3 linked regions of the Homo sapiens genome follow. The protein of the gene in region 1 purifies or fractionates together with the protein of each later gene. This does not show direct contact. Each region holds a gene or a part of one and is shown in the gene's direction. Other genes may lie near its edges.

The links.
Region 2: the proteins of ANKRD29 (region 1) and YTHDF1 purify together in Homo sapiens (affinity purification with mass spectrometry, with the first as the bait; one large-scale study listed by BioGRID). This does not show direct contact.
Region 3: the proteins of ANKRD29 (region 1) and TFCP2 purify together in Homo sapiens (affinity purification with mass spectrometry; 3 studies listed by BioGRID and IntAct, with this or other methods). This does not show direct contact.

The regions. Positions count from the first base shown.
Region 1 is NC_000018.10:23,610,811-23,614,462, reverse strand, and holds part of ANKRD29 (ankyrin repeat domain-containing protein 29), read left to right. Parts: intron 1-2,272; coding exon 2,273-2,371; intron 2,372-3,652.
Region 2 is NC_000020.11:63,209,632-63,213,283, reverse strand, and holds part of YTHDF1 (YTH domain-containing family protein 1), read left to right. Parts: intron 1-3,652.
Region 3 is NC_000012.12:51,166,520-51,170,171, reverse strand, and holds part of TFCP2 (alpha-globin transcription factor CP2), read left to right. Parts: intron 1-3,652.

The DNA.
Region 1 (3,652 bases):
AATGAATTCTATGAACAAAAGGAATAAGCTTTAGAAAGCTTGGACTTTGCAAAATATAGTCTTGTTTCAAACAGCTCTTTTTTGGCTTTTTAAAAACTCCTGGTCTGGTGTGGTGGCTCACACCTGTAATCCTAGCTCTTTGGGAGGCCAAGGTGGGCGAATCACCTGAGATTAGGAGTTCAAGACCAGCTTGGCCAATGTGGTGAAACCCCGTCTCTACTAAAAATACAAAAATAAGCCAAGAGTGGTGGTGTACACCTGTAATCCCAGCTACTCAGGAGTTTGAGGCAGGAGAACCTGGGAGGCAGAGGTTGCAATGAGCCGAGATCACGCCACTGCACTCCAGCCCAGGTGACAAGAGCAAAACTCCATCTCCAGAAAAAAGAAAAAAAAGAGGCCAAAAAGCTGCACTTGTTAAAATTGTTTGTAAAGGCCGGGCACACTGGCTCACGCTTGTAATCCCAGCACTTTGGGAGGCAAAGGCGGGTGGATCACCTGAGGTCAGGAGTTCAAGACCAGCCTGGCCAACATGATGAAACCCTGTCTCTACAAAAATACAAAAATTAGCTGGGCGTGGGGGCTCATGCCTGTAATCCCAGCACTTTGGAAGGCCAAGGCAGGAGGATCACGAGGTCAGGAAATCAAGACCATCCTGGCTAACACGGTGAAACCCTGTCTCTACTAAAAATACAAAAAATTAGCCGGGTGTGTGGCGGGCGCCTGTAGTGCCAGCTACTTGGAAGACTGAGGCAGGAGAATGGCGTGAACCCGGGAGGCAGAGCTTGCAGTGAGCCGAGATCACACCACTGCACTCAAGCCTGGGTGACAAAGCAAGACTCCGTATCAAAAAAAAAAAAAAAATTGTAAAGTAAAAATAAACCATCTATGAAAGTGAATTCTATGAATAAAAGGAACAAGCTTTAGAAAGCTTGAACTTTGCAAAATCTAATCTTGTTTCAAATAGCTCTTTTTTGGCTTTTTAAAAACTCCTGGTCAGGCATGGTGGCTCACACCTGTAATCCCAGCCCTTTGGGAGGCTGAGGTGGGCAAAACACCTGAGCTCAGGAGTTGGCGACCAGCCCAGGCAACATGGCGAAACCCTGTCTCTACAAAAAATACAAAAATTAGCAGAGTGGCTGTTACACACCTGTAGTCCCAGCTACTCAGGAGGCTGAGGCACGAGAATCGTTTGAGCCCTGGAGGCAGAGGTTGCAGTGAACTGAGATTGCGCCATTGCACTCCAGCCTGGGAGACAGAGCGAGACACTGTCTCCAAAAAAAAAAAAAAAAAAAAAAAAATTCTGACCCGTGTTGCATGTAGGTGAAGTTGATAGATTGGCTAAGATTTAGACAAGTAAATTGTTACAAGAGTAGTGAATTATCATACATACTTAAAAGCAACCATAGAAAAATGCTACTTTGTGGGAATTTTTCTCTGGGTATGATATTTTACTCTTTTACAAAATCAGAGTGGTTTTTATTATGAGCAACTAATTAGGAAACTAAGTTTGCATTAGGTACTATTTATGGACATATGTACCCTCTAGAACCATGTCTTATGACTGCCCACTGTTCTTAGTTTTGTTATAGTCTCCTCCCCTCCTCTCCGTGGTCCAGCTACATGCTGCATTTAGCTGGTTCCTTATTTTGATAAATATTTGCAGTAAATGTCATAAAACATTAACAACTGACCTATGAGGCCCTTCTGTGCTCAAAAATGCTCCAACTCAAAGCTCCGGGGCATTGCCTCACCCCACATACCCTTCCTCTTAAGCCCTGTAGCTCCACAATCACAGTCCTGCCCACCTGAGTGCTCAGAGTGTCTGTAGCTGGTCTGACAGGTCAGCCCGTTGGCTAAACAGCTCTTCCTCTAACCTCGCTGGAAGTGGCTCAGCAAAACTACAGACTGTACGTGTTGTCCTTACGTGTTGTCCTTGAAGAACAAAAATGTTGGGCACGGCGTTGTTGTTTCTTCTGCAGCAAGTTCCAAAGTATGTAAAACAGACTGAGTGACCATGAAGTCATGTGTCCCCTCAGCCCTATTCCTTATTTCACTTGTAAGAGAACATTAGCAATATTTGTACTGACCATTGGTTATGTATCCAAGGACACTATACTAGGGGCTGATGTGACTTTGAAAAGTACAAGGCAAGATAAGGAAGGTTACGGGTATGAGGTTACAGTCTTATCACCCAGATGGTTTATGATGAAAGCCATGCTGAATGCCAATGGCTGTGAGCTCACTCCTGACACACACTGTCATTTTCTCTTAGAATGGGACATCAGCGCTCCATGCAGCAGTGCTCAGTGGAAACATTAAAACAGTTGCGCTGCTCCTAGAAGCAGGGGCAGACCCATCCCTGAGAAACAAGGTACCCACTAAGCAATCTTTTAACTCGTTTGGGCCCATTGATGTGTCCTCCTAGGCCAGGAAGGATAAACATCTCCCTGGCTCCAGTCACCATCTTCATTCTTTGCATAGTAAGGGCATTCAAGGTTGCTGTTAGTAGGTGATTAGTGAGCAGTACAGTTGGACCCAGGAAATTCTACTGTTAATAAAAACCCTGACTCATATCAATGGTTTTTTTTTTTCTTTTTTAACAAACCCTTGTGTCAAGGGCTGACTTTCAATAGATTTTTGCAGCGAGGGAGGTGCTCTGCTATGTACGAAACCCTGACCCAGAAGCCGGTCATTTACAAATGGTTTAGCACCAGGTTCCCCATGGACGTGCGTTGTGTGATGGGTGAGGGCGCTATCAATGGTTTTCTTTTTTTCTTTGAGAGGGAGTCTCGCTCTGTCACCCAGACTGGAGTGCAGTGGCGTGATCTTGGCTCACTGCAACCTCCACCTCCCAGCTTCAAGCAATTCTTCTGCCTCAGCCTCCTGAGTAGCTGGGATTACCGGCGCAGACCACCATGCCCGGCTAATTTTTTTGTGTTTTAGTAGAGACGGGGTTTCACCATGTTAGCCAGGCTGGTCTTGAACTCCTGACCTCAAGTGATCCACCCACCTCGGCCTCCCAAAGTGCTGGGATTACACACATGAGGCACCACGCCCGGCCAGTGGTTATCAATGAACAGTGGTGCACTCTCCTGGTGGAGGCGAGGAAGAAAGGGAGAGCAGTTACTATGGGAGTATTGTTCTGTCATCTAAGATGTACCCTAAAAATGCCAAAATTCTGGTAGTTTATCACCATTCCCATAAGTTCGATGTTCATATCTTGAAAATTGCTTGTGCTATATTTGGTTGCTTTTGTATTGTTAACAGGAGTACATGCCACTGTTACAAAACAAACCCACTTTTTTCTAGTCCTAAATTCTTCATTTACAATTAGGCCAAACTTCGCGGTGGGTGGGTACACAATAAGAATTTTTTTAAATGATTGTCATTTTACTTCCTCCTCTTCAACATCTGCTTAAGCTGGCACATGTATAGATTGCAGCAGAGGAGAGTAGCCTAGGAAAGGTCTTGAGAGAATGCATGCGCCAGGCGCAAAGGCCCACTCCTGTAAACCCAGCACTTTGGGAGGCTGAGGCAGGTAGATTGCTTGAGCCCAGGAGTTCAAGACCAGCCTGGGCAACATGGCGAAGCCTGTCTCCACAAAAAATACAAAAATTAGCCAGGTGTGGTGGTGTGCACCTGTAGTCCCAAC
Region 2 (3,652 bases), on another chromosome or scaffold:
ATTTTTGTATTTTTAGTAGAGACGGGGTTTCACCATGTTGGCCAGGCTGGTCTCAAACTCCTGACCTCAGGTGATCCACCCGCCTCGGCCTCCCAGAGTGCTGGGATTATAGGCGTGAGGCACCGCGCCCAGCCTGGTTTCAATTTTAACTCCACCACTGACTGGCCTGTGTCCATGGCTTGCCTTCTCTTGCCTCAATTTCCTTTTCTGTAGAAGAGAGAGAGTAGTAACTGTTTGTAGAATTGTTGGGAGGATGACATCAGATGGTGCACATAAAGCGCTGAGACAGTACCTGATACAGCAGGGCCCAGTGAGTCATAGCTGCCCTGTTTTCTTAGGTAATTCAGGCTTTCTCTGCCTTGGCACTGTGGACATTTTGCACGGGAACATTCTGTTTTGGGGGCTGTCCTGTGCATTGTTGGATGTTTAGCAGCCTCCCTGGCTTCCCACCCACTAGATGCCATTAGCAACTCCTTCTCCCCATCCCCAGTTGTAGCAAGCAAAACTGTCTTGGTGGATGTTTTTTGGGGGATACAGTTGCCCTGGTTAAAATCTACTGGGAGCTGCTCTCTCTCCTCTGTGCTGCTGTTGCAGCAAAACTCCCAAGAGAAGCGGTATCTGTTTATGTCTAAGAGTCCAACTCGGGAATCAGACTTCCCCTGCCTCACTTTCCTACCTCCAGGCCGTTGGCTTGGATGAGGGGCTGCACCTCTGTGAGCTCCTCACTTTGGTGAGCAGGCCTCATGGGGCAGCACAAAGCAGATGCTCTGAGTGCTCCATTTCGTGTGCTGTGATTCACATTCCTTCCTCCGCCACTCCAAGTAGCCCTCAGCTACTGGGCATGTTTACTTTAAAGTAAAACCAGGCTTCACCTCTTCTCTGTGAAGGAATAAAACTAGTCTGCCCTTTTCTGAGGTGTCTTAGAACTTCTTAGAATGTTCCTTCATCCCCCTCCCTCCTACTGCACTTGGCGAATCAAGCAGCTTAGAGACCAAGAAACCTTGTACAGGTGGAGCCTCGGCAGCGCTGCCCCGCGCTCCGACCCTGCTTCTGTTTCTTGTCTCTTGGTTGCCTTCTGAGAATCTGCCCTTCCTCTGGGCAGAACTGACTTGACTTTAGTGATGGGCCTTTGGATAGAGGTAATGGCAGGAAGTTAACTAATTTTTTGAATTTCTTGTTTTCTAGTGTGTTCTTATTATTTTAGTACTTTAATGGTATTATGTACTGAATTTTAGCCAATAAAGGGGGAGGGAGGTTGCATCAGTACACTTAAAAGTGTGTGTGTGTGTGTGTGTGTGTGTGTGTGTGTGTGTGTGTGTGTGTATTTTGGAGACAGGGTCCTGCTGTTACCCAAGCTAGAGTTCAGGGGCATGATTATAGCTCACTGTAGCCTCAAATTCCTGGGCTTAAGCAATCCTCCTGCCTCAGCCTCCTGAATAGCTGGGACTACAGGCATGCACCACTACACCTGGTGATTGATTGATTGGTTGGTTGTAGACACAGGGTCTCTTTGTGTTGCTCAGGCTAGTCTTGAACTTCTGGGCTCAAGTGATCTTCCTGCTTTGGCCTCCCAAAGTGCTAGGATTACAGGTATGAGCCACTGTGCCCAGCCAAAAATATTTTTATAAAGTCGGAGCTTTTGTGTTGTTTGGGAGGATTTCTTTACAAATCGATTATTTTTATGTCAGTGGGTGTCTTAGCTCCATATGTAGAGTATACAGTATGGTTTTATAACTTTTGATTTACACAGACATACCTTTGGAGCCATGGCCACAGTTAAGATAGTGGGCATATCAATAGCTCTGGGTCCTTTTTTGTTGGAGACAGGGTCTCACTCCATTGCCCAGGCTGGAGTGCATGATGTGATCATGGCTCACTGCAGCCTCGACTTCCCAGGCTCAGGTGATTCTCCCACCTCAACCTCCCAAGTAGCTAGGACTACAGGCATGTGCCACCACGCCCAGCTAATTTTTAAATTTTTAGTAGACATGAAATATTGCTGTGTTGCCCAGGCTGGTCTTGAACTCATGGGCTCAAGCAATCCACACGCATCAGCCTCCCAAAGTGCTAGGATTATAGGCATGAGCCACTAGTGCCCAACCTAACCCTGGGTACTTAAAAGAGAAAAATCTAGATATGGTTTGTAGTAGCCAGTTGGAGGCTACCGTGTTTTGTGTGAAACTGTCATACTTAGAATGGTTTAGAAAGTCTTAGGAGAATGCCTGCCTGTTAGGTTGGTTTAACTTGTAATGGGCTGTGAGGGGTTGTTGCCGTGTGGTGGGGGTCCTTCCCTCAGAGAGGCCTCACCCGCCTTGCTGTGCTTCTGGTGCTAGAGTTTCAGTCCTAGTTGCCCCTGAGGCGCTTGCGACTGTAGCCGCTCAGTATCTGTCTTCTAGTCTGTGACTTGAATGGGAGTTGGGGGAGCAGAGGAACTGGGAGTGAAGGGCTCTGGGTTGGGCTTGATTGTTGTGATTTTCTCTCTTTTTTTGTTTTTTGAGATGGAGTTTCGCTCTTGTTGCCCAGGATGGAGTGCAGTGGCGCGATCTCAGCTCACTGCAGCCTCCACCTCCCTGGCTCAAGTGATTCTCCTGCCTCAGCCTCCCGAGTAGCTGGGATTACAGGCACGCGCCACCACGCCTGGCTAATTTTTTTTGGTATTTTTAGTAGGGACGGGGTTTCTCCATGTTGGTCAGGCTGGTCTCGAACTCCCGACCTCTGGTGATCCCCCTGCCTCAGCCTCCCACAGTGCTGGGATTACAAGCATGAGCCACAGTGCCCCGCCGATTCTCTCTTTTGAGGCTTTTCCTGCTCGGGGACTTCTGGTTTCCCAGTTCTCTGTTGTTTTCTGAAAGGAAAGACTGTGAAATGACCCAGAACAGTTCCTACTCAGAGTTTAGAAGACACTGTCTTGGCATGATGCCTGAGTTGGGAATAGATGCCGCTGGCCCCCCAGGCTTCCTGCACACTCCCTGACCAACAGACTGAGTGTGTTTGCTGTGATCCCACTGACAGAAATTACCAAGGCCATCTGGGCATGCCTGTACCTGTGCTGCCGGATGCAGTTTGGTCAGCAACAGACCACAATATGATAGTGGTCCCATAAGACTATGATGGTGCTGAAAAATTCCTGGCACCTGGTGACGTTGGAGCTACCATGTTGAGGGCAGTGTATTACTCGTGTCTGTGGTGCTGCAGTAGGTGTGACCAAACCTACTGCCCCAGTCATACCAGAGTATACACCTACAGTTACGTACAGTACCATACAGTACGTAATAATTGATGATAAACGACTGTTACTACTTTGTGTATTTGCTATACTTTTAAGAGCATATTCTGCCTACTTACTAGAAACAAAGTCAACTGTAAAGCAGCCTCAGGCAGGTTCTTCAGGAGGAATCCAGAAGAAGGCAATTGGTGTGACAGGAGATGACAGCTCCATGTGTGTTGTTGCCCCTGAATACCTTCCAGTGGGGCAAGATGTGGAGGTGGAAGATCCAGACCCTGTGTAGGCCTAGGCTAATATGTGTTTTTTGTGTCTTTTTGGGTTTTTGGTTTTTTTGTTTTGTTTTGTTTTGAGGCAGGGTCTCTCCCTCACCTGGGCGGAAGTGCAGTCATGACTCATTGCAGCCTTGACCTCCTGGGCCCAAGTGAT
Region 3 (3,652 bases), on another chromosome or scaffold:
ACAGAGGTTAATTTGGTCTGAAAGTAAGTGCCCTGACCCTGAACTTACACATGAGCGTCTGACATAATATTTGACAATTTTTTATGCTGTTACTTGTGTAAAGATATTCACAGCAAAAAGTTTGATTTTGTTTAGGTTACCAGAGGTTAGGCTGGAAATAATTAAATATAACTGTACTCATTATAAAAATAGTTAACATCACCAGCAAACATTTGTTAATCTACTAGGTGCAATACCATATGCTCTTGATACTATGCCATCTTACATTTAATTAAGAGTTCTTTACAAATCATACTCTGTGTTTTTCACAGACATTAGAATGGCTTGCATATTTACACATTTAGTTTTTTCAACATCAAAATCAAATGCACAAGTTTCAAACATCACTTTGAGTTCTTGAGAGTATAGTGTGCCAACATTTTAAGTACTTTCTTCTTTTCTTTTCTTTTTGAGACGGGTCCTGTTCTGTCACTCAGGCTGGGGTGCAGTGGCACCATCTCGGCTCAGTAGAACTTCCATCTCCCGGGCTCAAGTGATCCTCTCACTTCAGCCTTCCGAGTAGCTGAGACTATAGGCATATAACACTACGCCTGGCTTTTTTGTTTTTTTCATCCTTTTTTTCATGTGTTAGGTACTTGTCACTATTCTCTTGACTTTTTTTTTTTCTTTTTGAGATGGAGTCTCGCTCTGTTGCCCAGGCTGGAATTCAGTGGTGTGATCTTAGCTCACTGCAACCTCTGTCTCCCGGGTTCAAGCGATTCTCCTGCCTCAGCCTCCCGAGTAGCTGGCACTACAGGCGCACGCCATCATGCCCGGCTAATTTTTGTAATTTTAGTAGAGATGGGGTTTCACCATATTGGCCAGGCTGGTCTTGAACTCCTGACCTCAGGTGATCCACCCGTCTCAGCCTCCCAAAGTGCTGGGGGATTACAGGCGTGAGCCACTGCACCCAGCTCTCTTGACTTATACACATTTAATCTATTCTATTAATTTGTGTTAATTAGATATTGGTCTTCAAATTTTAGTATTCATAAGAGTCACCTGGACAGCTTATTAAAAATACACTTGGGGACCAGGTGTGGTGGCTCACGCCTGTAATCCAAACACTTTGGGAGACTGAGGTGGGTGGATCCCCTGAGGTCAGGAGTTTGAGACCAGCCTGGCCAACGTGGTGAAACCCTGTCTCTACCAACAATACAAAAATTAGTTGGGCGTGGTGGTGCATGCCTGTAATCCCAGCTACTTGGGAGGCTGAGGCAGGAGACTTGCATGAACCCGGGAGGCGGAAGTTGCAATGAGCTGAGACTGTGCCACTGCACTACAGCCTGGGCAACAGAGCCAGACTGCATCTCAAAAAAAAAATGAAATAAAAATAAAAATACAGTTGGGGATAGGCATGGTGGCTCGTGCCTGTAATCCCAGCACTTTGGGAGGCCAAGGTGGGAGGACTGCTTGAGCTCAAGAGTTTTCATCAGCCTGGGCAACATAGGGAGACCCTCTCTCTACTAAAAATAAAAAAATTAGCTGAGTATGGTGGTGCCTGCCCCTAGTCCCAGCTACTCCAGAGGCTGAGATGGGAGGATCGTTTGAGCCCAGGAGGTCAAGGCTGCAGTGAGCTGTGATTGTGCCTCTGCACTCCAGCTTGGGTGACAGGGTGAGACCCTGTCTCAAAAAAACAAAAACCAAACCAAAACAAAACACCAGTTTACAGGGTCCCATCTCCAGTGATTGGGGCACAGACTAGAAATCTGATTATTTATTCATTAGAGTTGAGGTCTTGCTTTGTCGCCAAGGCTGGAGTGTAGTGGCTCAATCACAGCTCACTGCTGCCTCGAATTCCTGAGCTCAAGCAGTCCTCCCAAGTAGCTGTCCCCTAGGCTGGAGTGCACCTGGGGGTACAGTCATGAGATACCATGTCTGGCTGATTTTTAAATGTTTTGCAGAGACAGGGTCTCCCTATGTTGACCAGGCTGTTCTGGAACTCCTGGGCTCAAACAGTTCTTCCCCCTTGGCCTCCCAAAGTGCCGGGATTATAGGTGTGAGCCACTGTGCCCAGCCCTGATTTTTATTTTTTTTTAATTTTAATTTTGTCTTATTATTTATGTTTTTGGAGGCGACATCTCACTCTTGTCACCCAAGCTAGAGTGCAGTGGCGTGATTGTAGCTCATTGCAGCCTCAAACTCCTGGGCTCAAGTGATCTTCCTGCTGCAGCCTCCTGACTGGCTAGGACTACAGGGTCACACCACCACACCTGGCCAGTTTTTCTACTTTTTGTAGAGACTAGATCTTGCTGTGTTGCTCAGGCTGATCTCTAACTCCCGACCTTAAGAGATCCTCCCACCTTGGCCTCCCAAATTGCTGTAATTACACATGTCAGCCGCGGTTCCCAGGCCTATTTCTCCTTTTAATAAGACCTTGGATCTTAGTGTGCCACCCTCCAGCAATAATCTTTGCCAACTGGTTCTAAGAGTCAATCAGGCCAGGCATGGTGGTGCACACCTGTAATCCCAGCACTTTGGGAGGCTGAGGCAGGCAGATCACCTTGAGGTCAGGAGTTCAAGACCAGCCTGGCCAACATGGTAAAACCCTGTCTCTACTGAAAATACAAAAATTAGCTGGGCATGATGGTGCACACCTGTAATCTCAGCTACTCGGGAGGCTGAGGCAAGAGAATGACTTAAACCTGGGAGGCGGAGGTTGCAGTGAGCCAAGATCGAGCCACTGCACTCCAGCCTAGGGGACAAAAGCGAGACTGTCTCAAAAAAAAAAAATGTCAATCAGTCTGACGTTCTACATCTTTATTAGGGAAAATACTCTCTTTGACAAGCAATTTGTTTTATAAAATATCTTCTCTGACACATTTGTTTTACCCTAGTTTATTTTCTGTTGCATCTTATGATGGTTTCATCTTCAAATCTATTAATTTGTATTTTATAAAGAGTCATCTTAATTAGATTTATTTAATCCTTATTAGTGGTCCTTTTATTATTCTTTTTTTCTTATATTTTTATTGTGGCACAAACTTTATACTAAAAGGAAAAGGAGATTCATTGTGAATACATGATAAGTGAAGGAGCCAGTCACAAAAGACCACATACATATGATTCCATTTCTATGACATTTCTAGAATGGGCAGATCTGTAGAGAAAATAAATTAGTGGTTGACTAGAACTATGGAGGAGGAGGGAATGGAGAGGGACTACTAGTGGGAATGGAGTTTCTTTTCAGGGTGTTAAAAATGTTCTAAAATTGTTTGTGATGATGGTTATGATATCAAACTAGGTTCGTCCTGCCCACGTGCAGCAAGCCAATCACTATGATGATGGGTTTTGCAAAAGAGACAAGATTTTATTCATAGGGCTGCTGAATGAGGAGACAGGAGAGCAAATCCCAAATCTGGCACCCTGAAAATAGGGCTTGGCAGTATTTGTGGGGTAGGACGCAGGGTGGTCTAAAGCATGGGGAAAGGTGATTGGCAGGTAGGAAAGGTGAGGTAATCAAGGTTTCTGCACAAGCGTAATTGAGCTACATTGCTCTTCATAGGCCATGTGCAGAAAATGGCAGTGTTAACATGATCTAAGTGTGGAGTTTTTGTCCCTCTGACATGAAAAGGTCACTTTTTGGGCACTCATGCAGGTCCAGTTGAGGGAT